Homo sapiens: one gene and its partners. The protein of the gene in region 1 purifies or fractionates together with the protein of each later gene. This does not show direct contact. Each region holds a gene or a part of one and is shown on either strand. Other genes may lie near its edges. The genes, in order: RMND5A, WNK1, HNRNPUL2, ADCYAP1, MYO6, WARS2 and TENT4A.

What was found.
Region 2: the proteins of RMND5A (region 1) and WNK1 purify together in Homo sapiens (affinity purification with western blotting; 2 studies listed by BioGRID, with this or other methods). This does not show direct contact.
Region 3: the proteins of RMND5A (region 1) and HNRNPUL2 purify together in Homo sapiens (affinity purification with mass spectrometry, with the first as the bait; one large-scale study listed by BioGRID). This does not show direct contact.
Region 4: the proteins of RMND5A (region 1) and ADCYAP1 purify together in Homo sapiens (co-immunoprecipitation; one large-scale study listed by IntAct). This does not show direct contact.
Region 5: the proteins of RMND5A (region 1) and MYO6 purify together in Homo sapiens (affinity purification with mass spectrometry, with the first as the bait; one large-scale study listed by BioGRID). This does not show direct contact.
Region 6: the proteins of RMND5A (region 1) and WARS2 purify together in Homo sapiens (affinity purification with mass spectrometry; 3 studies listed by BioGRID and IntAct, with this or other methods). This does not show direct contact.
Region 7: the proteins of RMND5A (region 1) and TENT4A purify together in Homo sapiens (affinity purification with mass spectrometry; 3 studies listed by BioGRID and IntAct, with this or other methods). This does not show direct contact.

The regions. Positions count from the first base shown.
Region 1 is NC_000002.12:86,754,405-86,758,768, forward strand, and holds part of RMND5A (E3 ubiquitin-protein transferase RMND5A), read left to right. Parts: intron 1-4,364.
Region 2 is NC_000012.12:902,532-906,895, reverse strand, and holds part of WNK1 (serine/threonine-protein kinase WNK1), read right to left. Parts: intron 1-4,364. UniProt on the Homo sapiens protein: Serine/threonine-protein kinase component of the WNK1-SPAK/OSR1 kinase cascade, which acts as a key regulator of blood pressure and regulatory volume increase by promoting ion influx.
Region 3 is NC_000011.10:62,720,352-62,724,715, forward strand, and holds part of HNRNPUL2 (heterogeneous nuclear ribonucleoprotein U-like protein 2), read right to left. Parts: intron 4,076-4,364; coding exon 3,940-4,075; intron 3,640-3,939; coding exon 3,563-3,639; intron 3,376-3,562; coding exon 3,236-3,375; intron 2,553-3,235; coding exon 2,462-2,552; intron 2,363-2,461; coding exon 2,250-2,362; intron 2,030-2,249; coding exon 1,766-2,029; intron 1,592-1,765; coding exon 1,469-1,591; intron 1,073-1,468; coding exon 944-1,072; intron 1-943.
Region 4 is NC_000018.10:909,898-913,162, forward strand, and holds the end of ADCYAP1 (pituitary adenylate cyclase-activating polypeptide preproprotein), read left to right. Parts: 3' UTR 1-2,275; downstream 2,276-3,265. UniProt on the Homo sapiens protein: PACAP is a neuropeptide involved in diverse array of physiological processes through activating the PACAP subfamily of class B1 G protein-coupled receptors: VIP receptor 1 (VIPR1), VIP receptor 2 (VIPR2), and PACAP type I receptor (ADCYAP1R1).
Region 5 is NC_000006.12:75,888,739-75,892,238, forward strand, and holds part of MYO6 (unconventional myosin-VI), read left to right. Parts: intron 1-1,318; coding exon 1,319-1,527; intron 1,528-2,489; coding exon 2,490-2,568; intron 2,569-3,500. UniProt on the Homo sapiens protein: Myosins are actin-based motor molecules with ATPase activity. Unconventional myosins serve in intracellular movements. Myosin 6 is a reverse-direction motor protein that moves towards the minus-end of actin filaments.
Region 6 is NC_000001.11:119,074,349-119,078,712, reverse strand, and holds part of WARS2 (tryptophan--tRNA ligase, mitochondrial isoform 1 precursor), read left to right. Parts: intron 1-2,105; coding exon 2,106-2,363; intron 2,364-4,364. UniProt on the Homo sapiens protein: Catalyzes the attachment of tryptophan to tRNA(Trp) in a two-step reaction: tryptophan is first activated by ATP to form Trp-AMP and then transferred to the acceptor end of tRNA(Trp).
Region 7 is NC_000005.10:6,711,598-6,716,518, forward strand, and holds the start of TENT4A (terminal nucleotidyltransferase 4A), read left to right. Parts: upstream 1-1,834; 5' UTR 1,835-2,386; coding exon 2,387-3,102; intron 3,103-3,151; exon of another isoform or gene 3,152-3,522; intron 3,523-3,544; exon of another isoform or gene 3,545-4,921. UniProt on the Homo sapiens protein: Terminal nucleotidyltransferase that catalyzes preferentially the transfer of ATP and GTP on RNA 3' poly(A) tail creating a heterogeneous 3' poly(A) tail leading to mRNAs stabilization by protecting mRNAs from active deadenylation.

The DNA of each region.
Region 1 (4,364 bases):
AGCTTTGGAATCCTGGTATTTTAAAACCAGAAAAATTAACCATCAGTGTTACAGGGTTAGCTGGGAAGTTGACTTTTATAAAATGTACACTTTTTCCCTTAAAATTTAGTTCCACTAACCCATTTAATTCTTCATAGCTTAGTTTTTTCTTTCTAATCATTTCTCAGTTCTTTCTCCTTTTTGAGACAGGGTCTCACTGTCACCCAGGCTAGAGTGCAGTGGCATAATCATGGCTCACTCCAGCCCCAACCCCCCAACCTCCCGCCTTAGCCTCCTGAGTAGTTGGGACTACAGGACTGTGCCGTTATGCCCAGCTAATTAAAAAAAATTTTTTTTTGTAGAGACAGGATCTCACTATGTTACCCAGGCTGGTTTCGAACTCCTGAGCTCAAGTGATTCTCCCACCTCGGCTTCCCAAAGTGCTGGAATTACAGACTTGAGCCTCTGTACTTGGCCATTTCTCAGTTCTGAGAAAATTTTGTGTAGTTCTAAAACCAGCCCAGATGACTAGACAGAAATTCCTGTATAAATTTATATAAAATTCTTGTATAAATTATAATAGATCTCACTTAAGAACTGTATCTCTGTGTAAGATGCATATTACCTTTGTAGAATTTGTTTAAGCAAATTTCAGATTGTGACACATCTGGGAGATAAATTCAACCAAATACCTCTAACACCTCTTAAACAAAATATGGCAACAACTACTTTTTTTTTTTTTTTTCCCAAAGAGACAGAGTCTTGCTCTGTGGCCCAGGCTAGAGTGCAGTGGGATGATCATAGCTCACTGCACACTCTCAAACTCCTGGGCTTAAGTAATCCTCCTGCCCCGGCCTCCTGAGTAGCTAAGACTACAGGTGCACACCACCACACCTGGCTAATTTTTAAATATTTTATAGAGACAGGATTTCTCTATGTCGCTCAGGCTGGTCTCAAACTTCTGGCCTCAAGTGATCCTCCTGGAGCGTCAGCTGCCCGAAGTACTGGGATTATAGGCATGGGCCAATGTGCCCGAGAAAGCCTACATACATATATGAACATGTAATGGGTTTCCCAGTTGTTTTATAGTGATTAGCAAATAATATTTGGGTTGTTATTCAAGGTAATATTCACTTATCTATGCGTTTCTTAGGTTTTTTCATTAAACTTTGTTCATATGTGCTAGTCATGTACGTACTATGACTATATCTGTAGTCACTGGCACATAGTATTTGCTACCTTAGCCTTCAGAGTACTCCAGACTTTTCTCCTAAGAGCCTTTTAAACTTTGTGCGTATATAAGATATGTTTCTTATTGATAAGCATGTTATGTATATTGATTATTTCTGTAAATTTTGTCTATTATTTGTTGCCTTAAAACAATTCCTCTCAGGCAGAGAGAGGACTTGTTCCATAAGTAAAAATTTTCTCATTTCATGTTTCTGGGAGTAGTGTTTAATATCAGCATGAGGGAATGTAGTGGTAATCATAGTTAACTCTGCTTGAGTGGTTATTGTATGCCTAGCATCGTTCTAAGCATTTTACGTGTCTTAACCTATTCAACCCTCATATTAACCTATGAGGTAAGTCATCTTACAGAGAAGCAATTAGGGCCTAGAAGATCCTCTGTGAAAAAAAGTCAAAAGATTATATGAGAAATGCTTTACATAATAGTCCCCCAGTATTCTCATTTGAGGTTCATTTTAACTTATTAAGTGTATCATCAAGCCAGGTGCAGTGGCTCACACCTGTAAGCCCAGCACTTTGGGAAGCTGAGGTGGGCAGATCGCTTGAGCCCAGGAGTTCGAGACCAGCCTGGGCAACATAGCAAAACCCTATCTCTACAAAAAAATAGAAAAATTAGCTGGGTATGGTGGTGTACGCCTGTAGTCTGAACTACTCAGGAGGCTGAAATGGGAGGATCACTTGAGCCCAGGAGGCGGAGTCTGCAGTGAACCAAGACCACACCACCACTCCAGAGCCGAATCCTGTCTCAAAAAATAAGAAAATAAATAGAAGTAAAAACGTACCATCAGTAATCCTACAGTAAAGAAACTCATTTAACTTGGTATAACCCAGTGTTTTCTCTGTGTATTTGACCAATCTTGTTTTCCCTCCAGATAACACATTTAAAACCCATAAAATTGGAGTTATACAAAACATAAGATTTAATAGAAATCGTCATTACAACAATTCAGATTTTTCCAATTCTTGCCTATTGTGGGTGCAGAGCAGATACTGACTAAGCATCTTTCATGAGCTAGGTACAGAAAATTCCCTTTACTCAACTTACAGCAAAAGTTGAATGATATGGGACTCCAATTTGGGGAATTCTAGTTAAGGTACAAGGCGGGAGATATCTGCCAGTTATGCAGCATCCCATTTGTTCCTGCTGGGAAGGATATCATGGAGCTCACAAGGGAAAAGAGGAAGGAGAGGATGCAGCAATTCCTCCAGACTGCCTATGCGGTGAGAAGGCAGAGGCCAGCCAAAAATTTGAGGTGGCTAGGCCGGGCACGGTGGCTCATGCCTGTAATCCCAGCACTTTGGGAGGCCAAGGCGGGCGAATCATCTGAGGTCAGGAGTTCAAGACGAGCCTGACCAACGTGGAGAAACCCCATCTCTATTAAAAATACAAAATTAGCCAGGTATGGTGGCGCATGCCTGTAATCCCAGCTACTCAGGAAGGCTGAGGCAGGAGAATCGCTTGAACCCGGGAGGCGGAGGTTGCGGTGAGCCAAGATCGCGCCACTGCACTCCAGCCTGGGCAACAAGAGTGAAACTCAGTCTCAAAAAAAAAAAAAAAAAAAAAAAAAAAAAAAAAGTGGAGGTGGCTAAAGGCCATTGAGGGCCTAGGGGAATGGTGATATTGTGGAGAGAAGTGGCAGAACAACACCTGATTACATAGATCTAATCAGGACCTTGCCTGCTCCTGTGTTCCGTGCCCTTGTACCTCTGAGTTTGTACAGATTTTCCCCCTCATCCAGATTTCTTTTATGCTCACCCAGATTGTTTTATTTGCTTTTTGAATTTCTCTTGGCGCCTAGAGTAGTGCTTACCTCATAGTAGGCCCTCAATGAATAACAGTAATCTGCAGGAGAATTTAGAGCAAACTTGTCATCCTCTTCCATGGTGGCAGATAGAAAGCCAAAAATAGTGTTAACGAGAGAATAGTAACTTAATACAACGAGGTGGGGGAAATATTAGAAAAAATAGGAACTGTCCTTGTAGCTATGCCATTATTAACATACATATTGAAAGAAAGCACTATCTTTAGGGGAAGCTACTTGGTTGCCTTCCTAAACGTGTCTCAAAGAGTAATACTACCTTGCTGGATTTGCCACAGTCTAGTATCTGACTTTCAGCTTTGCAGACTTGGAAACTTGTTTTTGGTGTCCTTATTTTGTTTTGTTTTCACTAAGAACAGGCCTTTAAAAACGATAAAAACCTGAATTGCTAAGCTGCGTACATAGTTTGGATTATTAGGGGCTGTGAAACAAGCTTGTGGTAGGCAGGTCCATGTGGAAGGCACATGAGCTTGCAAAGCCTGGAGTTGGAACAAGAGGAGATTGTTCTAGAAAATGTTCAAAGTTCTCAGGCTAAAATGTCCTGATGCCATTATGTCCACCATGGAGGTTGTGTTGCAGAGCCGTTGGGCAGTTCAGACTTCATTCACTGACTCCTTTTCTCAAAATTGTCCTTGGCTTGCCTTGGTCGAGTTTTGAGTCAGCATTAAGTATCCCAATAGGTAATAAATAAGAGTACAAAATCAAAAGGCACAACAAGATAAAAATACAGTGAAAAGTAAATCTCCCCACCTTTGCCTTCTAATCACAGTTACTCTCCAAACAGGCAGCCACCATTAACTGTATTATGTATACGTACATTTTTATGCACAAGTGGTTGCATACTATACACAGTGTTCTGCTTTTTACTTGAAAAATTTTGAAGTATTTGCCTATATCAGAGCATATAGAACTATTTTTTTTTTTTGGTGGCTGCTTAGTGTTCTCTTTTAGGGATTATACCTTAATTTTATTTAGCCAGTTCCTATGGATGGACGTTTGTAGTTTCCGATATTTTGCTTTATAAGTGATGCAGCATTGAATATCCGTTGCACATTATTTTGAGCATGCCTGCTAGATATGTTGTCCAATATGGTGACCACTCCTATGTGTAGCTCTTACTAATCTCTGCATTACTGAGAACCTCATGTAAAAGGGTGTGTGTGTGTGTCTTAAATAGAGTCAGATATGCAATACCATAGTTTGTGTGGTTTCTTAAATAGCATGTGAAAAGGACAGAGACTCACACCAACTCTGAGATGAGTTTAATGGTAGTAGTTCCAGCAGTGGACTCAGCCCATAGCTGAAAAATTACCATTT
Region 2 (4,364 bases), on another chromosome or scaffold:
ACCCAGTTAATTTTTTACTTTTTTATATAGACAGAATCTCCATATGTTGCTTAGTCATGAACTGCTGGGCTCAGGCAATCCTGCCATGTCAGCCTCCCAAAGTGCTGGGATTACAGGTGTGAGCCACCATGCTCAGCCTAGCCATTCTTTAAATAGAGAGAGGTAATAAGAGAAGTAGCATGCTGTGTTCAGAAAAGTTTTTCACCTGGACCCATAAACATGAATTTGCAAACATAAACTTGGGAGGGGTTAACCTCTCCCAATTTCCCATGAGTAAAGAACAAGATTATTCATGAGGAAAGGACTGTATGGTGTGCCTGAATCTTTCAACTTCAGGAAGACATGGTTTTCCTGAAGATGACCTCAGTTTCAATTGGCTCAAGGATTCCCACCGCTTCTCCCCACTCTTCCCAGAACAGCAAGCACTCCCATGTAGAAGCGACAAGAAAATGCAGCTGAGGCAGGGTGCAAAGGGGAGGAGGAAGCTTTGCGGTTATGATGAAGGAACTCTATTTCTGCGGTTTGATGAGAGAGGAGGGAGTCTATGCCTGCCTGATTTCGGCTCTGCTGGAGGGCACACTGAAGATTATTCCAAGAGGCACGTTTTGGGGAAGAGGGAAAGAAGAGTCATGGTCTTGTCTGTTTTCCTTACCCCCCACTGTCTTACCAGATCTCACGTGTTACAGAATAAATAAAAGCTCCTAAAGTAAGTTGTGAACCACTAGTCCTTAAGGTACCCAAGTAATGCGGGGGTAAGTAAGTGCATGCGTTATCCTGCTTTCAAGGTCAAAGCAGCACCAGATCACAGCAGCACACCTAACGCAATCCTGCCACTTCAAAGCCTGTTACTGACCATCGCTGGTCTCAAGTCAAGCTTATATCCTACCACCTGGGGAATGGCACACACAAGCAGGTCTGTGCTGCAGTAACAGCTAATTCTGAGGTGAAGCTGCAGTGAGGAAGGTCACATGCTTCTTACCGCTATGGCAAGACACGGAACTACTGCAGTGTGAGTGTCAGCTCATTTCTTGGTGTCTGCTGGAGCCACAAGGGGATTGCTATTGCACATACAGTGTGAAGGGAAGAGTAAGCTCCCTACAGTACAGGAAACGCGAGGGGAGAAGCATGAGAGCACAGAAAACAGCCTTCCATGAACAGCCAATGTGAGAGAGTGGTGAAGTGGGAAGCACAGGCAATGAGGATGGGCAGTCATGACAGTGAGTGACTCAATCTAGAAAGCAAGCATATCACATGCATGGGGATTGTCATCCTGTTTGAACAATTATTGCTTGGTGAGCTTGATGTGAGAGACAATCAAAACAAAAAACAGAAATAATCACAGGGGAGCAGAGCTGTCAAAAGCTAAATACAAGAAGCTCAGGAGGCGTGACCATTGCTTATCCACAGAGCTCATGCTGGGAGACACACCTCTCTAGTCTGTCGCCCCTGATGCTGCGAGGCCCCTTTAGAACGAAATTTCACTTTTCATTTTACCCTACATTACCTAATACAGGATTCTCTATGAGGAAAGAGAAACCATGAGGAAGAGTCAACCATACAGCTAAACCTTCACGTTCTGGCTTCTGTATACAGGCCTCCCATTAAAGAATGAAACAAACCTATCATTTTCTGACCAGAAATTAACTCCTAAGAAAAGGAGACTTGACTATAAAAGATGTAGAAAGGCCTTTGAGAGAATATGCTAACTTCTTAACCTTTTTTAGTTCTTCTGAAAAGCCCTAATAAGTAGTATAGACTTACCCCCAAGATTCATTTTTAAATTTCCTCCTGCCATTATAATACATTTCCCCTATTCCCACATCACCAGATCCTACTAACAATAACCTATTATGAACCATAACTTACAGCCCAACATCCCAAGTACAGAATTTCCCTGTTGACCCTACCTACAACACTGTAAGTGGCCTTCTCATTAAAGTATGAGAAGCCACAGTCTAAGAAGACAAACTCTAGAAAGTGGTGTTTTTCTCCTCGTCAATCTAGCACACATCTCCCACTTCAGTGTGAACGTGGGAGGGCATGGACTTTTGTATGCTTTCGTCACTGCTGAGTTTCCAGTTGGGGTAATAACACTGCCCGGCACATATTTGCTGACCAAAGGATCGCTCTCCCATAGGAACTAGGCATCCCTGACCTCCCTATATATACCCATGGCCATTACCAATCCATGTCTGTCACAAGCTAGGCTCACATGGGGTTATCACTGAGGGCACCGACTAGGAGATGATTTCTCAATTAAGCATGTTAAATATTTATTAGAATAGGATACAGAGATAGATGGAAGTTAGGAATCAGGGAGCTATGAGACTGCAGAGTTGAAAGAACTCATGGTTAACAGGCTTTGCAATCAAGGACCAAAAATAACAGAAAAGATAATTACTACAGAGCTGGTTGCAAGGACAGACTTTTTTCACCATCTTCCCTGAAGCACAAAGAGAGAAGCAATGTGTTAAAGATAAAGAAACATCAGTGTAAAATATTTAGAATCTCCAAACAGCACACAAACGCCCAGCAAGAGAAAGCAGGAGGTGAGACAGATAGGTAGGACCTGGTAGCCCTTGAACAGATATAGTTCTACAGAATGTTTCGAACTGGCTGTTAGCCTTAACATGATTATCTGATGGGCTGTGTTACGTGGCTGACAGATGTGGAGTTTCTACACCCAATCTTTGTATCTAAAAGAGTAATGCCCTGCACTGAGGTTCTGGAATTGGCGAGGAACTCCAGTCTCTCAGGTCTCACTGCTTGAATTTCAAATACCCAAGCAGCGTTTCCACTGATCCTGTCCCACTTCCTGTTTCTCCAGCTGGGCTGTTAAAAAGCACTCAGTTAAATGCATTAGCAACCCCACCACAGTAGACTGATAGTATCACTGTTACAGCTTTAAGTTCATTTAAATTGGCTATTATATTTCCACATCCCACATATATATACTAACCCCTTCCCTTCCAGAATAGTTTTTAAAAGTACGTGGAAAACAAGCAACCTCTGAACATAAATATAGCAGTAAGCCAAGCCGTGCTTCCAAACCATTATCTATTTTGAGAGCATAGAATAATACATCTCAAGCTAGTAAGGTGCCCTACTCTTTCAAGTACCTGTTTCCTTTCCATATTTCAAGTATGTCTCTTGGGATTTGTTTACCAGGCTTACATGATGTATCCTGATGTGACTTCTAAGGATGTAGGGCCTTTCATTTTGCACCCAAAGGGAAGTGACAAGATTCAATATTTCTGACCACTTTCATTTGAACAACAGGGGTAATACCACCTACCTTTAAAAGTGGGATGAGAATTTATGGAATTTAATTAAAGTGGTATTTGTCACATTATATTTCAGAAACAGAAGCTTTGGTTCTCTTTCTTCCCTCTCAGACACTTCAGGCTGTAGACCATAGGCCTGACATGTCACATTCTACTTCAAAAACACCCCCCTTGCAACTTTCTAGGTGGACATGCAAATTAAATGCTTATTCAACTGTCAAAGTGCTAATATGCACAGTCCAGGAAAGTCTGACCAGAAAAATTATTGATCTGAGTCCTCAAAAAAAAAATCACACAAGCCTGGAAAACGATCGAATTGGGTAATGCCTTCCACCCGCTTCTTTGTTAAACAGCCTGGGACTAGTGCATGTGGGGAAAGTCAGTAAAGACTGCCTCTCAAGTACAGCTAACTCATTACTAATACAGGTACAAATAATAGGGGTGCTGGAAGGAGCCAATCCATTTCTAATGCAGGTAAAAATAACAGGGGTATGTGTGAGGGAAATGGCAGTTAAACGTGTCATATGCTTCGCTTTAAATCTAGTCACTACAGAGAACAAAGGGAGGTTGTAAATTCTTCCCACCGTGAAGAGGCCCAAGGGCCTCTGACCCATACTCAGAAACAGTGATGGCCTGAGCACATGCATGTAAAAAGCACTTCAATAATCACATCAGAAGTTTGAGGCCTTAACAGAGAAGATCTTTATTCAAATTATAACAAAGGTTTTTCTACTTGAACTATGTTTTTGTTTGTTTTAAACTGTTCTTCCACGAACAGTTATTGACTACCTGTTCTGTGCCAGGTAGGCACTGACTCATCAGAGAGAAACCATGAGTGCTTTTCAAGCGCTACCTGTTTCTCTGTACATGATCTTAGCTTGATTTGTACGATGGCCCTAGGACACTGGCATCATCTCCATTTCACATATGGGGAAGATGGGGTGACTTGCTATTGTGCCTTGTTTTTAAGTAGAAAGCTGCAAAATCCCAGAAATCATGTTAGAAGGAGAATTTTCACTTGCAGATGCTGGGCTTTGATCTTTATTAGACTAAGTGCTTTATCAGAATAACCAAACTAAA
Region 3 (4,364 bases), on another chromosome or scaffold:
CCTGGCCAACATGGTGAAACCTCATCTATACTAAAATACAAAAATTAACTCGGCATGATGGTGGGTGCTGTAATCCCAGCTATTTGGGAGGCTGAGACGGAAGAATCGCTTGAACCCAGGAGATGGTGGTTGCAGTGGGCTGAGATCACGCCACTGTACTCCAGCCTGGGTGGCGGCTGAGCAAGATTCCATCTCAAAAAAAAAAAAAAAAAAAAAAAAAAAAGGCCGGGCGTGACAGCTCACGCCTATAATCCTGTTATCCCAGCACTTTGGGAGGCTGAGGCAGGTAGATCATGAGGTCAGGAGATCAAGAGCATCCTGGCTAACACGATGAAACCCTGTCTCTACTAAAAATACAAAAAATTAGCCAGGCATGGTGGCGGGCACCTGTAGTCCCAGCTACTCGGGAGGCTGAGGCAGGAAAATAGCATGAACCTACGAGGCTGAGCTTGCAGTGAGCCGAGATAGCGCCACTGCACTCCAGCCTGGGCGACAGAGCGAGACTCGGTCTCAAAAAAAAAAAAAAAAAAAAAAAAGACTCAGTATCTTTGACAACTTAGACACGAGATAAAGGGTCAATACACATGATCTTCTTTAACTTTTCAAACTACATGACAGGTATTATCCTGTTTTGCTCATCAGGGAAACTGAGGTTCAGAAAGGATAAGGGACTTATCCAAGATCACAAACCAGAATGTGGTGGAGCCAGGAATTCAAATGAGTTCCAACTCTTTCCATTGTCTTTATTACATGTTTTATAGCCTGGGTCCATATATTTTCAAGTAAAAACACTAATTAGGGGTACCTCTGAGTTCAAAAAACATTGCAACCATAACACACAACCAGATGGTCATAATTAGGTAAGCTGACTCTGCTCCTTAATTCAGTCTCTCTTTATATACACATCCCACCTTGACTCTAGGCAATTTTATCAGATTAATACCTGATCAAGAATAAAGTTCCTCTTTGTCCGGGAAGCAATCTGGACCAGCTTACTAAGGCACTGGGAGGCTTGCTGAACTAAAAGGTCTCGGCTTTTGGGGTCCATCTCTGGCTCCTCGAGACCCTTCATCTGATTAGTTTGAGAGGAAGTGAAAAAAAAAAACAAAACACAAGTTATATTGCAAGTTAAAGCCCAAGAGTTATTGGTAAATGTCACCTCTTCAAATACTGAATCTATGATATCACTCTATTCCCATTCTTCAGTGCTGTGAATGTTGTCCATTTCCTGCAGTAGTCATTTCTATCTAGTCTTAACCTGGATGTATTTCAGATCTCATCTGCTTTCAGAAATTTGACAACACAGCAAAGAAAAAAAAAATCAATCCACCTAAAACGCATAGAGAAAAATCTCATTTCTCTATTTCTGGGACCCTTGTTCTCAGACACTTGAGACTAATTCTCCATTAAAGATAGGTTATAAGAGTCTCCAAATACTGTATCCGACAAATCCCCAACAGCAACTTACCCTCATTTGATTGAGCACAGTCTCAGCTCCCAGGACATTGTATCTTTTCTCAGGGTTTTCTTTTGCATATTTCAGTGCCCACTGGGTCTTTCCAGATCCGGGTAGTCCCACCATCAGAATCACCTGCAAAAAACAGAACCAGAAATATAATGAAAAATAAATGAGGGTCATGTTTATCAAAACCAATTTAAGAACATCCTCCCATTCCTGTTTGGTAACGCTCTGAGACCCTGGAGAGCATACGCACCCACCTCTGCAAAGCATACAACCTCAGTGTTCGTATACTGTTTGGCATACCTCACATTCCTCTATGGTCTTGGGAGGGACTGCAGTGCGTACACGCTCCTCAACAGGCACAGCATGAATGAACACAAACTCTTCTGGTGGTGGGAAGAAGGGCTCCTCCTTCTGACCGAAGTTTAATTCTACAACACAATTTTTGCAGAGGACATGGGGTAGAAGGGCCCGGTCTGCCAGGGAATCCTTGCTGATCCAGAATGCCACACCTAGGTCTTCTCCATTCTTGGAGAAGGAAAGTTCTACTTCTTCAGTCTCAAAATTCTACAATGACAAGGGACAAGAGCACTTATTGGCTGACGAGGCTTTGGGTTGATTAAACTTTACAATTTATTCTTTTTTCACACAGACTGCTGCACAAAGTAACTAAGCGAGCCACACACATCACATGCATAAAAGCCAGCAGTTGATGGGAAGCACAAGTGAATTCCCAGTGCCCTCTATCCGCTCCTTGTTATAACCCACAACTTTCAGGAGCACTTACAGCAAAGCAGCCAATAACATCATTCTCCCCAAAAGTCTGGCCAAATTCCTCAAATTGTCCATTTTCTGCCTTGAGTCCTCGTCCATCGAAACCGTAAGAGAATTCATCTTCACCTAGAACAGTCAACAAATTAGTTACCTACAACCGGACTTCCCATAGAGTAAGCAATATGGTAGTAAACACTAATGAGGAACTTAAAGAAATAACTTTACCAAGCTGTGGACGGGAAAAATCAACAGACCACCCAACTCGAAGGAGAGAGACCTCTGTGCAGCCTTCTTTCATTGGGAGATTCTGGGTTACCTGGCCAAGTCAGAAAGGGAACTATTAGATATTGTGACCAACTGAGTAGCAAACTCTGAGTTCGAAGGACAAGATTTTTATACAAACTGAAAACGACATTTACCTCAACTCAACATCAGAATAACAATCACTGAACTTAAAGCCACAGGGATCAATTTCTTGGTTACTGAAACTAAGGTTCTTGTTAAAGCACAGTGCTTTTACCTACCTGCACTAATAAAAGCCTGATTGGACAGAAGTCCAGTATACATAGGTAGTAGCTTAATGAATAAATGAACGGTCTTTTTAAAAAAATATTTCTTCCCCAGCCAGGTGCGGTAGCTCATGCCTGTAATCCCAGCACTTTGGGAGGCCAAGACGGGCGGATCACCTGAGGTCGGGAGTTCAAGACCAGCCCGACCAACATGGAGAAACCCCATCTCTACTAAGAATACAAAATTAGCCAGGTGTGGTGGCGCATGCCTGTAATCCCAGCTCCTCGGGAGGCTGAGGCAGGAGAATCGCTTCAACCCAGGAGGCAGAGGCTGTGGTGAGCCGAGATGGTGCCACTGGACTCCAGCCTGGGTAACAAGAGCGAAACTCCATCTCAAAAAAAAAGAGATAATAATCTTCTTTTCCCCCTCTAAGAACCGTAAGCATCCAGTAATAAATGAATGAATGAATGAATGGTCTTAATGAGCTACCTTTGCCTCAAAGCAGACTTTTCCCTTTGTCACTCCGTAAGTACTCCTTGCCCCAGACCAAAGGGTGGGGAACTTCTCTGAGAAAAGTGGCTGCCCTCCATAGCGGTCTTTGCTCACTTGAAAATGCAGATCCGAGGTATCTGTAAAGAAAGAAGCAATCAGTTTACTCCAATGTCCAATACTTGTAAGCCGCCAACAGAGCATAAGTATACCAGTTGTTGTAGTGGATACAAAGTCTCATAGAATTTATAGGCTATGAAGTTTTAATCTCCAAAATCACTTTTAGGAGATTAGTTAAAAACCACAGTCTGTCTGCCTTATACATACACGTGTCCAGGTTCACAAGAGTTTGATCCTCCTCCTCATCTTTTGCCTCTTCTTCAGGAGGCAGTGGAGACTTTGAGCTATATATGTAAGATAGAAAAGAAACACAATGTAAACAAAGCCCTCTTCTTTGAGGGGTGTGTGTGTATGACATTATGTCCATTTTAAACTGTCAGTGAATATCAAATCCCAGCAGACAGCTTTTTCCAATAAATGAGAAAGGGCAATAGGAGTTTCCATGGTAGATGCAATCTAAAACTCATGCCTATAAAAACCTATTCCATTTTGAATCCACCCTCCTTCCAGTCTCTCCAGTCAATACCAGGTATACCAAAATCAGAGCAGACACTCCCTTCAACGAAAGGGACTGTTTCCCTCACCGGCTGTGGTAAGCCTCCTCTCGGAATTCATAGTAAGCTCGGCCATGTTCATCCTTCTCATCCCGCTGTCTCTTTACCCCCCGCCGCTCACCATCTGAGCCTGCTGGTTTTGACTTTTCACTATCCTGGTCATCTCCTACAAAAACGAGGGAAAGAAAATCAGCAGTTTTCATACTGGAGTGTAGAATAAGCTCACAACTAATAGACACTAACAGGGAATCTGAGAATCTGTCTGATCAAAACAGCCAGGTTATTCCCACTACATTCACATAACATTTTATTTCTAAAGATCAGCTTTCTGTCATTGGCTGTGATTTAATTTTTTTAAAAAGGGGCATTATGGGCTAATTACAGTCAAGCACTAGATAAAAATTGGACAATTTTTGCATTCTAAATTTATCCACTTAAATCAGGTCAAACTTGCA
Region 4 (3,265 bases), on another chromosome or scaffold:
ATATATATAAAGTATAGAGAGAAGTTCATACAAAGCGTGCACAAGGATTGAAAATTCGCCCGAGCTGTTTATGTTTTTATAAAAATAAATAGAAAAGTAGACAATCATTGTTTTGAATATTACTCCTATTTTTGTAAACTGGAATTAAAAGGATAGTATTTTTATCCATGACAGGCCTGAAGATATTACTACTTACCATTTGCTACTGTACATAAACAATGATGCCCTGCTCCAGGGAGATTTTGAGGTAAAGATATGGAGAATTGCTGAAGGGCATTCTTTCCCAGTGAGTCTCTGGGGCAGGCTGCTTCAATCCCAGCCTAACTCAACTGGGCTCTGTCCCCCTGGTTGGGTGGCAATTCCAATATTTCTGCTTTCTTTGATTCTCCTTTTATGTGTAGTTGTCTCTCTTCAGACTCTCAGCCCAGAAGAAAATTCTCCTGATAAAACAACAGCTCGATCCAAATTGTGCTTCTCCCCAGAATTCACGCCTCTCCCTAGGAGAAGAGTTGAGGAACTGTACAGAAAAGGGCGGCTTCGTTAGACCGCTCTCTTTTCTGTACTTCCTGAGTGGCCAGGGAATCTAATATCCCCAAATTAGGGCAATTGGAACAAAGTGAAGGACATAGAGGTATATTGGAAGAGGCAGAGCCTGAGGTGGTAGGAGGAGGACCCTGGAAATGGACTGGTTTGAGATTGCCCCAGGTCTGGGAAGCTGAGGGCAAATCCAGTCCCAATGGTCCTGACTTTGGGCGCTGGGTATTGGAAATGGATGCAAAGTACAATGTGTTTTTCTCCAGTGCTGTCCATGCTTCTCATCTTGTGAAATGGCCAGGATCCTCTCCTTTGAAACCTGCTCTGTAGGAGCTACCCTTTTCCTTTGTGGTTTTATGGAGACCTCTCCTTCCTACCCTCCTGCACTGTTTAAGTACTGTTTACCATTTTTCATTCACTTCTCTTAAACTTGTGAATGCTTCTCACTTTTTTTTTTTGTTTGATGCAGGCACTTATTGTAAATTTTAGAAACCCCTCTGTAGCCACTAGTAAGTAATTATGCACTAAATATGAACCCTTTGTTTCTTGTTTATTGAGTTTGTAGGTAAAATGTATTTTTCTACATTATTGCTTATTGCTTAGTAAAATTTATTTCATAAAACCAACCTTTGTCATATTAGAATGTGTAGTGTTCACATGTTGCTCAGTTTTGCTAACTGATAAATCATTTAATCCTCTTCTTCATATGTATGAGTACTATCTTATATCTGTGGTCAAGAGTGAGGTAAGCAAGCTCCAACAGACCCTGAGAACCTACGCTTGTATCCTTTCTTTGGCTAAAGAAAGCATGTCTGTTTCCTGTCAATTCTTTGAACATACAGAGTAATCTTTATAAACAAAAGAACCTTCACCCAGCAATCAGATCGAGCAGCAACAGACAAACCAGCCAGCCAATCTCCCAAATTTCAGGCACAAGTTTATTTATTTATTTTTTTATGTTTTGAAAAAAGAAGATGAAGAAGAAGAAAAAAAAAAGAACAAGGAAAGATTAAACGTTAGCTTGTAAAGTTTAAAGGACCTTTCCTTTTCCTTTACGGATTTGATCAGTATGAAGTCATAAATCAAAGAAAACAGAATTGGATTTGCATTCCCAGGCGGGATGGATGCTGCCAGGAGATCACATTGCAAATAGTGAAAACAGAGGCATTCGGTCTATGCCTGAGTCCTGTGTATAGGATCAATCTTCCTTTAATTCCGCAGTCTCCTCAGGCAATGTGACACGGGATGCAGTTTGCAGCTTTAGTGCCTTTCTTCGCCTTTTAAATTGCCACGAATCACAGATGGCTATTTAGTGGCCCTACAATGCTGCAACACATCAGCTTGCATTTTAGTCTTAATTATTTGTTTCTTGGATAATGGGCAGAGTTTTCTGTATTTGTATCAGCTGTTAGTGGTGAAATAGGGCTCTAGTTAACCTTTTATTTATGAAGTCTAATTTAGTGTTCCCGTGGCTAGTTGCAAGCATTTTACAGTGATCACCCAGTTTAATCTTTTGTATACTTTTTAGAAATGCCAAGAGCCTTACTAAACTGAAGCAGATTTATGATATAGTGATAATTTAGGTAGATGTTAGTCTTGAAGCTCTTATTTTGTGTGCAACTGATTATAAAAACACCTTAACCAAGTATTATTACACACATGATATCTATAACTAGGACTTTGATAACTGTTATATAAAGTGTGTAAAATTTGTATGAATAAATTTTTGTAAACAATGCAACTTGGTCTAATGTTTGGGAAAAAAGACATTCAGGAAATAATTACTTTAAAATCTCTTAAAGTATTATATTTCTTTAGCAACCATAAGATTTTTTTACGTCTGGAATATATATCTATCTAAGCACCCTTGTATTTTCATGAACTGCACTTTAATAATTGATGGGCAACTGGATTCTGCTAAAAATTTAAAGTAGCTACTCAGATGGAGATGCCTAAGAAGGTTTTAAGCTCATAAACAGGCATGATGTTGCAACATTATAAGACACACAATTTAGATTAATTTCCATCCCCTAGTGTGTATATACTTTGCTCAATATTCAGAAAGTTACTAGGTAGTAGTGGGAGACAATGCTGGAGCATTAGTTACACATCTAAAATAGCAATCTAACATTGTTCTTTTATTTTTTATTTTAGTGGCCAGGTCTCACTATGTTGCCCAGGCTGGTCTTGCTCAAGCGATCCTCCCACCTCAGCCTCCCAAAGTGCTGGGATTACAGGCGTGAGCCACCACACCCAGCCTAAAATAGGGATCTAACATTGTTCTTATACAAGTAACTCTGCAGACTAAACTTGTCTTGATAAAATTTTGTATAAAATGATCTAAATAATCAGTTTTTGGAGGTTTTAAAATGTGTTTAGAGACATACAAACTACTGTCTCTGATTAAAATGCTTTAGGTAGAAGGAACGTGAACATGAGTAAGTAAAGAGTTAATTAGATGCCTTTAAAAGAAAATGTACTTTGAAGTCCAGGAAGAAACACAAGAAGTCATTTGTGGATTGTATGCTTTCTTAGTTCATATTTACAAACTTTAGGGCAAAGCTTTCATACGAAATTCCTTCAAATTCCGTAGTGGTGTGTGTTTTGGCACCTTTGACTATTTCTGGCTTAGAAAATGTATAGAAAGTCACACAATAATTGACATACCATTTAATTTAAAATGCCAGGGTTTCATCCTAAAAATTAATGGTCTCAATTAGTAAATCAATAA
Region 5 (3,500 bases), on another chromosome or scaffold:
ATACATTTTTACAGTTCTTATCATAATATACATTTCAATTTCTATCTCTACCATTGTTATATACTTGTCCATGTTAATACATTATCTTCATAGATACGATAATGTAATTAATTTTGTGAAAATAGCAATTTCCTCTCCAATTTTGTAGGAAAAAAATGGGATCCCTTATTTTGTTTTGATTTTTATTTATTTGATTACTAGTGGAGTTGAAGACTTTTCTATATGCTTGTTAATTATATTTCATATTTCATTAATTACATTTCATATCTTCTCATTATATTTTAGAGTTTTAATGCTTTTTCTCAGTTTCATAGGTCAGTGCAAGTATGTGGGATATAATGAATATCTTAAAGTGAGCGTTTTATATTTTCTGCAGATATTTTATGTAAACAATGGCAATCTTGGAGGTAGAAAGGAAAAAAAAGATCTGGAGGAAAATGAAAATGCTATAAATAGACTCAGCTGATTTTATAAATCTGTCAAGGGCCATCTTTGTTTATGTGGTATCATTATAAATTAAAATTAACCCACCCACATTTTTTGAAGGCTAATTTTAGAAATCCAATAATTTTGGATATATTTTGTAATTTTTAAAATATTCTCTAGGTACTATTTGAACATTATTCTAAAATAGTAGTAAACTATTGCTAAATTAGCTGATCATTACTTAAGAAATAATTCTTTTTGAGATAAGAGGCTTGCTCTGTTGCCCAGTCTGGAGTGCAGTGGCATGATCTCGGTTCACTGTAACCTCCGCCTCCCGGGTTCAAGCAATTCTCCTGCCTCAGCCTCCCGAGTAGCTGGGACTACAGGTGTGTACCACCATGCCCAGCTAATTTTTGTATTTTATTTTTATAAGAGACAGGGTTTCACTATGTTGGCCAGGCTGGTCTCGAACTCCTGACCTCAGGTGATCTGTCCACCTTGGCCTCCCAAAGGGCTGGGATTATAGGTGTGAGCCACTGCACCCGGCCTAGAAATAATTTTTAACTGCAGTATATTACCTTATCCACAGATTACCTGTCTAATTGATGTGTAATACTTGTGTGCAGAGATAACATAAAACATTTTTTGAATAGTATTTAATGTACAAACAGTATAGTAAAGATAACGGACGTATTGCTTACCATCTTACCTAGTTTTTGCTGTATTTGCATATTGGAGTAGTTTTTTATTTTAAATTGTAAAAAACAATAAAAACATTAAAATTTATCTTAGCCATTTTTCAGTTTATAATTCAGTATTGTTAAGTATATTCACATTGTTGTGCAACAGAAGAAATAAGCTTTTACGTACCTATTTATTTTATTTTTTAAAGTCCACTATGATGACGCAGGAACAAATCCAGAAAGAATATGATGCACTGGTTAAAAGCTCAGAGGAACTCCTCAGTGCATTACAGAAAAAAAAACAGCAGGAAGAGGAAGCAGAAAGGCTGAGGCGTATTCAAGAAGAAATGGAAAAGGAAAGAAAAAGACGTGAAGAAGACGAAAAACGTCGAAGAAAGGAAGAGGAGGAAAGGCGGATGTGAGGCATTTATATTATTTTGAATAAGAGACTTAAAGAAATAGTGAATTCTTGGTATTGACAGTGGTTAATGACAATTATTTGTTTTGTTTTGTTTTTGTGACAGGGTCTTGCTCTGTTGCCCAGGCTGGAGTGCAGTGGCGCGATCTTGGCTTACTGCACTCTGCCTCTCGGGTTCAATCGATTTTCCTGCCTCAGCCTCCTGAGTAGCTGGGATTACAGGTGCGCACCACCACGCCTGGCTAATTTTTGTATTTGTAGTGGAGACGGGGTTTCACTATGTTGGCCAGGCTGGTCTCAAACTCCTGACCACAGGGGATCCACCCGCCTCGGCCTCCCAAAGCGCTTGGATTACAGGCGTGAGCCACCGTGCTCGGTTGACAATTCTTAAAACTGTGTTCTTATTTTAATGAACTAATTTTGTAATAAGTTTGAAAATTGAGAGAATAAGGTCATTTTATAATAGTGATACCATAAAATAATTTTAACTATAATCTGAATTTGTTAGCCTCTTACACCTGAGGATTTTCTTCTTTTTAAAACTATGATTTGTTTATTGTTTTCTAAGCTAGATAAATGACACTTCTACTTTTCTGCAGTTTTAAAACTGATAACATTTTGAAAGATTGCCATGATAGGGTAGAGAGAACAGATGAGTTGTTGACTTGGAGAGGGACTAGAGGGAAGCACCTTTAATCAGGACCTTACAGCCAGGCTTTGTAACCACATTCATCTAGAGATGTTAAAAGTTATAGAATATAATTATATTTGTTTTATTTAAGAATTATTGTCAATAGAGTTAAATTTTATTTTATTCAAAATAAGTTGATGTATGTGGCCAGGAGGTTAATTTGCATTCCCAATCTGTTACCTTTGTTTATTATTAAATAATAGTTAAATTGCCTTCTGAAGGATTCTTTATTTTCTGTTAAATTTTTGAAGAGTTTTCTATTTTTTATTAGGAAACTTGAGATGGAAGCAAAGAGAAAACAAGAAGAAGAAGAGAGAAAGAAAAGGGAAGATGATGAAAAACGCATTCAAGTATGTACTTACTGGGTTGAATTTCTATTAAAATGGAACCTACAGGCTGGGTGTGGTGGCTCATGCCTGTAATCCCAGCTCTTTGGGAGGCCGAGGCGGGCGGATCACGAGGTCAGGAGATCAAGACCATCCTGGCTAACATGGTGAAACCCCATCTCTACTTATACGAAAACAAATTAGCCGGACATGGTGGTGGGCACCTGTAGCCCCAGCTAATTGGGAGGTTGAGGCAGGAGAATGATGTGAACCCAGGAGGCAGAGCTTGCAGTGAGCCAAGATGACACCACTGCACTCCAGCCTGGGCAACAGAGCGAGACTCCATCTCAAAAAAAATAAAAAATAAAAAATAAATAAAATAAAATGGAACCTATGAAAGAAGTGAAAATGAGATCTTGATTTGCTAGATAAGCTGTCACTAGTTTATCCTAGAGACCAAAGGCCAGTTTTTGAAGTGGTTATGGGAATGGACTTTGGAGCTAGGGAAGTGGGTTCAAATCCAAGATCAGTCACTGACAGAAATTGTGACATTGTACACATTATAGTGAGGAACTATGGGTCACAGTTGTCTCTCTGTAGAATGTGGATAAATAATAGTTGCAAGCATTTGACAGTTAATACATGTTAAAGCATTGTGAACACTGTGTAGATCAATAAATATTAATAATTGTTTTTATACCTAGGGGAAAGTCAAATGAAAATTCACTTAAAATGTTAAGTTTTAAAATATCATATAACTTTGTAGATACTGGAATTAATAAATTAGGATTAAGAGTCTCTCTCCACCCCTAGTTTTTAAAAAGTCCCATGTTGAGAATAAATTGCTCATGTATTTGAATTTCTGTTTGTCATGGCTTTCATAATATATCCTAAGCATAACCAAAACTTTAAATTCCTGACATCTGCTCTCTAGGTGTTAGTGTTAATGGGATGCC
Region 6 (4,364 bases), on another chromosome or scaffold:
AGAATATGTACAGATTCTGAAATCAATACAAGACAATCCAATCTGAGAAAAACAGGCAAAATAATTTAAATAGGCTCTTCATAGAATAGGAGGTAAAAATAGGTAGTAATCATAAAAAGAGTTCCCAACTTCTTTAATAATCAAAGAGAGTTAAACCATAATGAGATTCTACCTCATTTCCATCAGATTAGCTAAAAATAAAAAGACTGCTAATACCAAGTGTTGATGAGGATATGGAACAACAGGAACTTGGTAGAAAGTGTATAATGTTACATACTTAGGAATAGTTCACTATATTGAAGTACTACAATTGAAGATACGTATACATACCTTATGACTCGGCAATTCTACTCCTAGATATATACACTAGAGAAACTTGGCTCATAATACATTAAGATACCTGTATAATAATGGTCTTTTTTGTCCCTGTAATTTTTTATTTTGCAAATTTTTAAACTGACTGAAAAGTTGCAAAATTAATACAATGAATATAATAAAGTCTTAATAGATGGTAGCTAAGCAAAGCATAGTAGCTAGTAGAGAGAGCATACATGGGCTTTGAAGTCAGTGATATCTGGCCTGAAACCTCAACTCCACCACTTACTAGCTGTGTGACCATGGGCAATCTAGTTAAATCTGTGAGCCTCACGTCTCTCATCTATAAACTGGAGGTAATAATATGCCTACCATATTAGGTATTAAAATGATTAAATGCATTAATATATGTAAAGCACTGGGCATAAATGCTTGCAACATAGTTGTTCAGTAAATTATTGCTGCTATTGTTTTGCTGTGGTGGTGGTTAAAAATGATAATGATGCATTATATTTTCTCAGGGCCTTTTAGTTACAGTATATTTATTGATACATACTCATTTTTGGTTTTTCACTATGGAATGTATTATAAAATAATTCAGGGGAAAAATAGCAATTTTTTTTACTTTGTATTGCATTTTTTTTCTTTTCATTTTCCTATTATGACTTCAGTATTAGAAAGTACAAACCAAAGGGAAAATATGACCAGAGTAAAAATGCTTTTTATAATTTAAATAATTATGTAGAATTAAAATTTCCTTTTGAAGAATTGAAAACCCAAATATGATTTTATTAAAAGTAAAAGGAAACCAAGGCATAGAAAATGTAAATAACCTTATTAAGAAGTAATATTAGAAATAGAGTGTATGTTTTCTAATTTCTAGCCCAAGATCTCATACACCAAATTATAATATCAACAATATAAAAAAATCTTAAGGCAATAGTAGTAGCCTTTAGCACTAATGCTAAGGCCTTCATTTCCTTAACTGCAAAATAAATTAAATGACATGAAAAACCCTTGAGGCCCCTTTAATCTCCAGTGAAATTTCATTCTATGTCTGAAGGCTTCCTCGTTGACCACCAAACCTCAGTTATCTTTTCCTCTTGGGAATTCCTCTCTGAACCCTATTCTGTATCATTCCAAACTGGTCATGATCATGTTACCATGTTATACCTTTACTTATCTTTTCATAAACAATACCCTCTATCTCCAATTAGATCACATGCTCTTGGGGATGCAGATCTTTTCCTTTTTTTTTTTGAGACGGGGTCTCGCTCTGTTGCCTAGGCTAGAGTGCAGTGGTGCAATCTTGGCTCACTGCAGCCTCCACCTCCCAGGTTCAAGCAATTCTCCCACCTCAGCCTCCGGAGTAGCTGGCATTAAAGGTGTACCACCACGCCCAGGTGATTTTTGTATTTTTAGTAGAGACGGGGTTTCACCATGTTGGCCAGGCTGGTCCCAAACTCCTGATCTCAGGTGATCCACCCTCTTCAGCCTCCCAAAGTGTCGGGATTACAGGCACGAGCCACCACGCCCGGCTGCAGATCTTTTCTTATATGTCTTTGCATTTGTCCATGTTTGAGTGCAAAAACATTTTTAATATCATTTTTTTGTGCCTAGTAGCACCTAGCATAGTGATTTACAGTGTAGGCACAAAATAAATGGATGATGATGACTGTCAGATTGTAGTTTACAAAAATATAACTAGCTCCCATAGCTATGATAACATGGGCATAGGATTCATGGGATTCTGCCTCAAAAGCAAATATGCTTGTTTTCCTTTGTTCCAGAAAGACAGCAAGAAGCGAGTATTTTCCGGCATTCAACCTACAGGAATCCTCCACCTGGGCAATTACCTGGGAGCCATTGAGAGCTGGGTGAGGTTACAGGATGAATATGACTCTGTATTATACAGCATTGTTGACCTCCACTCCATTACTGTCCCCCAAGACCCAGCTGTCCTTCGGCAGAGCATCCTGGACATGACTGCTGTTCTTCTTGCCTGTGGCATAAACCCGGAAAAAAGCATCCTTTTCCAACAATCTCAGGTCAGCTTCTCAGATTAGAACTGAGAAAACTCTTATGTGTAGATTATTTGAGGAAAAAATGTTGAATGGTTCATACAGCCCCTGCTCGTGATTTTTAAAAAGTGTTTGAAGGTGACTTTTTCAAATGTGATTTTTTTCAGCTTAATGTTTTACTTGTATTTATATCATTAAGTATCATTATATTGCAAGAGTATTTTTCAGCTTTTCCTCCACTGTATTCGGTAAGTTTATGATGCTTCATATACCAAGAATTGTGTTTCATTAGTACTTCTAGCCCTGGAATTGTTTTGCTATGCTGGGTTGCTTTCAAACTGATTACTTTGTGTTGTTGACTAATCTCCTTGTGATCAAGGATAGAAGTTAGTGACCAATAGTTTTATGTAATTCCAATGTTGCTTTATTAGATGTTCTATTTAGAAGGTCTGTTGGATGATTCCCATTGTTCATTCTTTTTATAATAGTTTTTGAGAAGATTTGATAGCACAAGTTGGGAAATTGGAAGACAAAGTCCCAGTGTGTTGTGTCTAAGCCAAGAAAGGCTTCATAGTAAAGCCAAAATATTTGACTCATATCTTCACTATGGATGAATCAGTTTATTCTTGGACAGGCCGATAGTCTGGCCTAGAGACAAGGCAATCAAGATACACCCTAGAAAAAGATGAAAATTCTAACTAGATCATGCCTTCATTATGTATCTGCTTTAACCTTAGGACAAAGCCCAGCCAAGGAATGGTATGTTATACATGCTATGGTACATGTTAACATGCATGTATATATGCAACCTTCCTTGATTGTACATTTCTATCATTATTTTTATATATGTTTTGTTATACATAAAACTTAATGTAATGATTCTTACAGAGCAGACAGTTAAAAAATATGTGATAAACGAAAAGAGTATAATGATCCCTTGGCATCCAAAGAGTGTTGGCTCCAGGACCACCAAAGCTACCAAAATCTGCAGATGCTCAAGTTCCTTATATAAAATGGAATCATATTTGCATATAACCTACACATACTCTCTCGTATACTTTAAACCATCTCTACATTACTTATAATAACCTAATACAATATAAATGCTATGCAAATAGTTGTTATACTGTATTGTTTTTTAATTTGTATTATTTTTCTATCGTGGTATTGTTATTTTTTGATGCCTAAATACACACTGATTTCATATATATGTATATATATACACTAATTTTTTAAATTTTTAGAGATTAGGAAGGTGTATGTGCAGTTTTGTCACATGGATATGTTGTGTAGTGGTGAAGTCTGAGCTTTTAGTGTACCTGTCACCCAAATAGTGAACATTGTACTCAATAGGTGATTTTTCAACCAACATCCTCTTCCTGGCTTTTGGAGTCTCTAGTGTCTGCCATTTCTCTCTATATGTCCATGTGTACCTATTGTTTAGTTCCCACTTATAAGTGAGAACATGCAATATTTGATTTTCTGTTTCTGAATGATTTCACTTAGGGTAATGGCCTGTATTTCATGTTGGCCTCCATGTTGCTGCAAAAGACATGATTTCATTCCTTGTTATGACTGTGTAGTATTCCATAGTGTATATATAGTGGCGGTGTTATTTTTATTAGTTGTTTTTTCCTAATATTTTCAATCTGCTGTTTGGTTGAGTCCATGGATGCAGAACACACAAATTCAGAGGGCCAACTGTATGTTTAAAAAATAAATGCAGTTATCAACTTTGTTGCCAGCTTGTAGATAATTTGATAAAATAATAGAATCTGATCTTTAAAAGGACCATAAAGTCAATTTACCTCAACTTCATTCCTTATAGTTGGTCAGGAAGGCTTTGCTTACACATGACTTTTCAAATTCAGCGTTGGACAGATCCAGTTACTATAAAATACTTGCTTTTACTGACCAAATATCTACCTCCATATAGTTTCCATTCATTCATTTAATTTCTGCTCTGTAAAAAACAATAAATCAACTCTGTTTCCACACAACTGCTCTTCAAATACTTGGAAAGACATT
Region 7 (4,921 bases), on another chromosome or scaffold:
CCTCCATTCATGTCCCCACAAAGGTCATGATCTCATTCCTTTTTACGGCTGCATAGTATTCTAAGAGTGGCATGAGATGATTTTTAAAATAGTAACATCTTTTTTGTTTTTTAAAAAGGATCACACGAGCAGCTGTGCAGAATGTGGGAAACCAGCTAGAAGGCACTGCTTTAAAATGGACGGGTGGCGGGGAAAGAGGGGTGGAGGGAGGAGGAGGGGTAGCAGTTGGGTTCTGGTTGTTTCGGGCAGTGGAGCCAAGAGGATGTGTTCATTGTGGACAGAGAGAGGAGCCAGGCATGACCAAGGATTTTGGACTGAGCCATTGGAAGCAAACAGCTCCAGAATAACGGCCGTTTGACTTGTGTGTGATTTTCTGTAGTTTACTGAATGCACGTTCTAATCCTTGGTCATGATTTCCACGTGTACAATATGAAGGTATTTGAAAACGTCTGAAACATTCATTTTCATTACTAACCACCACCACTTGCCCCAAAGCCTTTGTATGCAACACACGGACCTTTCCTGTTGGGGCGATGTTTGAAGGGTCAAGTGCTTAGTAATGTCTACTCATCTGTGCTGGAGACGAGGGGGTAGCATTTACAACACGCCTGTACGAAGGCCAGGTCCCGTTCTACTTAAAAGGCTTGGAGCCCGGGCGCCACTGGGCTAAGGCAGCTTCAGGGCCCTGGCCCGGGAGTGCATTTGCGGGGACTCCGCCTGAAGACAGGGCGGCAGCCGCGGGGCCTCACGTCGCCCAGGCTCGCGGGGCACCGCGATGATCAACGACACTGGCGTTTGCTTTGGACCTCACAGGATGTGTGGTTGGCGCTGTATTCCAAACAGTGCCACTGTCAACCCGGCTTCCATCGCGCTCGGGACACCGGGATGGCAAACGGCAGGCTGTGGATGGCGGGCGGTTTCCCACTGACTCCTGCCCGCTCGGTGCAGCTGGAAAAACCGAAGCCGGGGGCCGGACGCGCCGCCCACCAGCCGTTCCTCGGCTAGCACTGCCCATTTTGCCCAGGGAATTAACTTGGAAGTTTTCACTTCACTTTTCGCATAGAAAATCATTTTAAAAAGCAAACCAAACGCCTGTAAGCAGACCCGCTAGGGAGCAGGACTCTGCCGCGTGTCCTTCCCGGCTCCGGAGCGGCGGAGCCAGCCACCCGGCACGGCACGCTGGCCGCTCACCCCGCGAGGTGCAGGGAGCACGTGGGCCGACGCGCGGACCCCAGAGAGCGCAGCGTGACCTGCTGCACGGACCCTCGGATGAGAGACCTGGGGCGGGATCTGCGACCGGGGCCCGCCCTTACGTCAGGAGGGAGGGCCGGCCGGCGGGGGAAGCGCCTGCGGTGGCGTCCGCTGCCCCCGCCCGGCTGCTCGGAAACTTCCACCGGCGGCGGTGACGGCCACGCTGCCCTGCGCACGCGCAGCGCGGCTCAGGCGGCAGCCCGGTGACACCGGCCCTAGCGCGCATGTCTGCACGCCGGGGTCTGCGCGCCGCGGCGGGCCGAGGGCGGCGTGCGGGCCTTCCAGCCGCTGCCTATTCCACCCAACGCCGGCCTAGTCAGTAATGGCTCAACGCCACCGCCTCTCCCTCCAGCCCCTCCCAGTCGCGTAGCTTCTGACGCCGTCCTCACCCCGCCCGCGGCCGACGGGGCCCCAACGCGCAGGCGCGGTAACCACGGCGGCAGTGTCTAGTGAGGATTTGAAATCGGTCGCGCGTGCGCACCGGCGACACGGCCCGGCGACCGAGGCCGCGCTTCCTCCTGCCGCCCCCGTCCCCGCCCCCTCCCCCGCCCCTCATTGGAGCGGACGCGGCGGCGGCCCCCTCCTTCCCCCGCGCTGTCGCCGCCGAGAGTGTCTTTTCACCGCCGCCGCCGCCGCCGCCGCAGGAGCGCCGAGCCAGCGGCGCGAGCGTGACTGAGGGCTAGCCGCACGGGCGGCGGCGCCTCCCGCGGGTCCTTCAGCCGCTCGGCGCCTGGGCCCGCCCCCTCGGCCCCGCCGCCCGCCCTTCTCCGATGGCCTCTCCCCGCGGCCCGAGTGGAACGCCGCCGCCGCCGCGGCCCCCGCGCCCGCCCCGCGCCGCGTGAAGCGGGAGCCCGGAGACCGCAGCCGCCCGCTGGGACGCGCCAAGCGCCGGAGCCGCCCGCCGCGGCCTGCCGGGGCCCATCACCGCCGCCGCCGCCCCACGCCGGAGCCCGACGGGAGCGCGGCTAGAGCAGGAGGCCGGGGCTCGGCCCGCCCGCCGCCGCCGCCGCCGCCGCCGCCACCGGCCCAGGCCCGTCCGTCCGTCCGTGCGCGCGCGGCCGGGCCTCGGGGCGCGGCGGGGGCGGGGCCGCGTCGGGGCGGGCGGGCGCGCGGGCCCCGCGGGGGCGGCGCGTGGATGGATCCGCGCGTGGCCTGGATCCAGCCCGAGCAGAAGGGGCCGGCCAATGCCCTGTGGATGCAGATCTGGGAGACCTCGCAGGGCGTGGGCCGCGGCGGCTCGGGCTTCGCGTCCTATTTCTGCCTCAACTCGCCGGCGCTGGACACGGCGGCCGCGGCGGGGGCGGCCGGGCGGGGCAGTGGCGGCCTGGGCCCCGCGCTGCCCGCCGCGTCGCCCCCGCCGCCCGGCCCCACCGCGCCCGCCGCGCTGCCCCCCGCGCTGCTGACGGCGCTGGGGCCCGCGGCCGAGGGCGCGCGGCGCTTGCACAAGTCGCCGTCGCTGTCGTCCTCGTCGTCGTCCTCCTCGTCCAACGCGGAGTCGGGCACCGAGAGCCCCGGCTGCTCGTCGTCGTCCTCCAGCAGCGCCTCGCTGGGCCGGCCGGGCGGCGGCCGCGGCGGCGCCTTCTTCAACTTCGCCGACGGCGCGCCCAGCGCCCCTGGCACAGCCAACGGGCACCCCGGGCCGCGCGGCCCCGCGCCCGCCGGCTCCCCGTCGCAGCACCAGTTCCACCCGGGTCGCCGGAAACGCGAGAACAAGGCCAGCACCTACGGCCTCAACTACCTGCTGTCCGGCAGCCGCGCGGCCGCTCTCAGCGGAGGGGGCGGCCCCGGGGCCCAGGCGCCGCGGCCCGGCACCCCGTGGAAGAGCCGCGCGTACAGCCCGGGCATCCAGGGGTGAGTGCGCGGGGAGGCCGCGGGGGCGGGGGCGGGGCCCATGGTCCTGGCCGGCGCCCGCGGTGCAGACACCCGTCCCAGGCGCCCGGGCTTTTGGAGGATGGATGTTGAAGGCTAAGGCCAAGGCCCGACTCTGCACTGAAAGTTTTTTTTTTAAACATCAGACTCATTTATCGTGGAGTGACTTGCCCAGATCCTACAAGTAACAGTCCAAGAAAAGGGGCTGCTGGGTAGGACCTGCAGGTATTTGTCTTTTTTACTCTTGAGATTGGAACGGGAAATCGACTCTCTACCCCTCCACCCCGCCTCCGGGCAAGTGAGGAACCCCTTGTCAAAGTGGGGCGTAGATAAGTGTGGAGTTTCACGTAAGTTAAGTTGCAGAATAATTTAGCATTGCCAGGAACTCGAATCACGTCGAAGGTAAATATTAACCTTTTTAATTTCATTTTTTAAAAAAATTTAACTGTCAACTTAGAGGTGATTCATTTTTTGGGGGGTGTTGTGTCCTTTAATTTTGTGCTGCAATTACCATAAGCATCGCCTATGGTTTATAAACATTGGCTTAATTCAAAGAAAAAACCAGATTTGTCATATATGTCTATTCTTTGGAAGGTGCCATTTTTATTTTAAATATTTCTACATCCGCCTAGAGGGAATTAGAGGCTCTACTTAAATTTAGTGCACTTACAGACGGCAAGGAATGAAACGAAAGGTGGTGTGTGTTTCGGGGTTGGAATTGTCCCAGGTGAGGCTGTTCAGGTGTGATGCTGTTGACGCAGCCCCTTTGCCATTTTGGGCTTTTCTGAGCGTCTGGAAGCAATTTATGTGTAGGTTGTATGTCAGTATTTTAAGACTTAAATGATAATTTTTCCTTGCACAATTTTTCCCCCCAATTTAAAAAACAATTAAGGATTTGCTGGGGTATGAGGGTTGTTGCATGCAGTAGAGTCCTACAAATAACCACAATTGCTAGGTGTTGGGAGTTCTTATAGTAAACTTTTGCTTGTAACTCTTTTTCTCATTTGAAGTATGTTGGGAAACACGAGTTGATACTTCTTTAAAGCGTGTGATACACTGTAATAGCTGCATGTTCTGTAACTTATTTCACCTGGCTTGGGCTACAAGCGATACCTTCTAAATTTCCCGAAGTGTAAACATGCAGTGCAGACGCCGGCAGGAGCGCAGACTCCTCTTCTCTCCCTCCAGTTCTTACCTGTAGAACTTTCTGAGAGCAGGTGGTTGGGAGCAGTTTCTTCTTGATGAATAGCAATATATACCTAAGGGCTCGCTTGGGGAGGACCTTTAGGTTTCCAGCCTGTTATGTAACTGGAATGGACTCCGTTTCTCTTAGCACTAGAAAAAACAGGAAGACACGTGGTCTCTGCCAGTCTTGGGTTGTACCTCTGCTCTTAGAAAGTGGTAGCGCATCAGGTCCCATGCACCTCACTTGGGCTCCCCGAGCTGTTTCCTCCAGGTAACTCTAGTCAGGCTCAGTAGGTGGTGTTGCTTTTGTTAGTGAATGAGCCCACTAGGATCAGGTGCTGTGCTAGGATCTGGGGATCTGGGGCAGGGACGGCATGGGAGACACAGTCTCATGATCTTGACCCACCCTGAAACCTGCCTGCAAGTGCCCCCTGCCTAGAGCACAAGAGTACCCTGCTCAGTTGTGCAGGTCCCCTCTCACGCTCTTCGTCACCCACGTCCAGTCTCTCATCACATGCTGTTCGTTTGGCCCTTTTAATCTCTCCACACCTCATCCTCCCTCATGCAGGCTCTTGTTACTTCTGTGGAGATTGCTCAAGCAGCCGGAGGTGCCTTT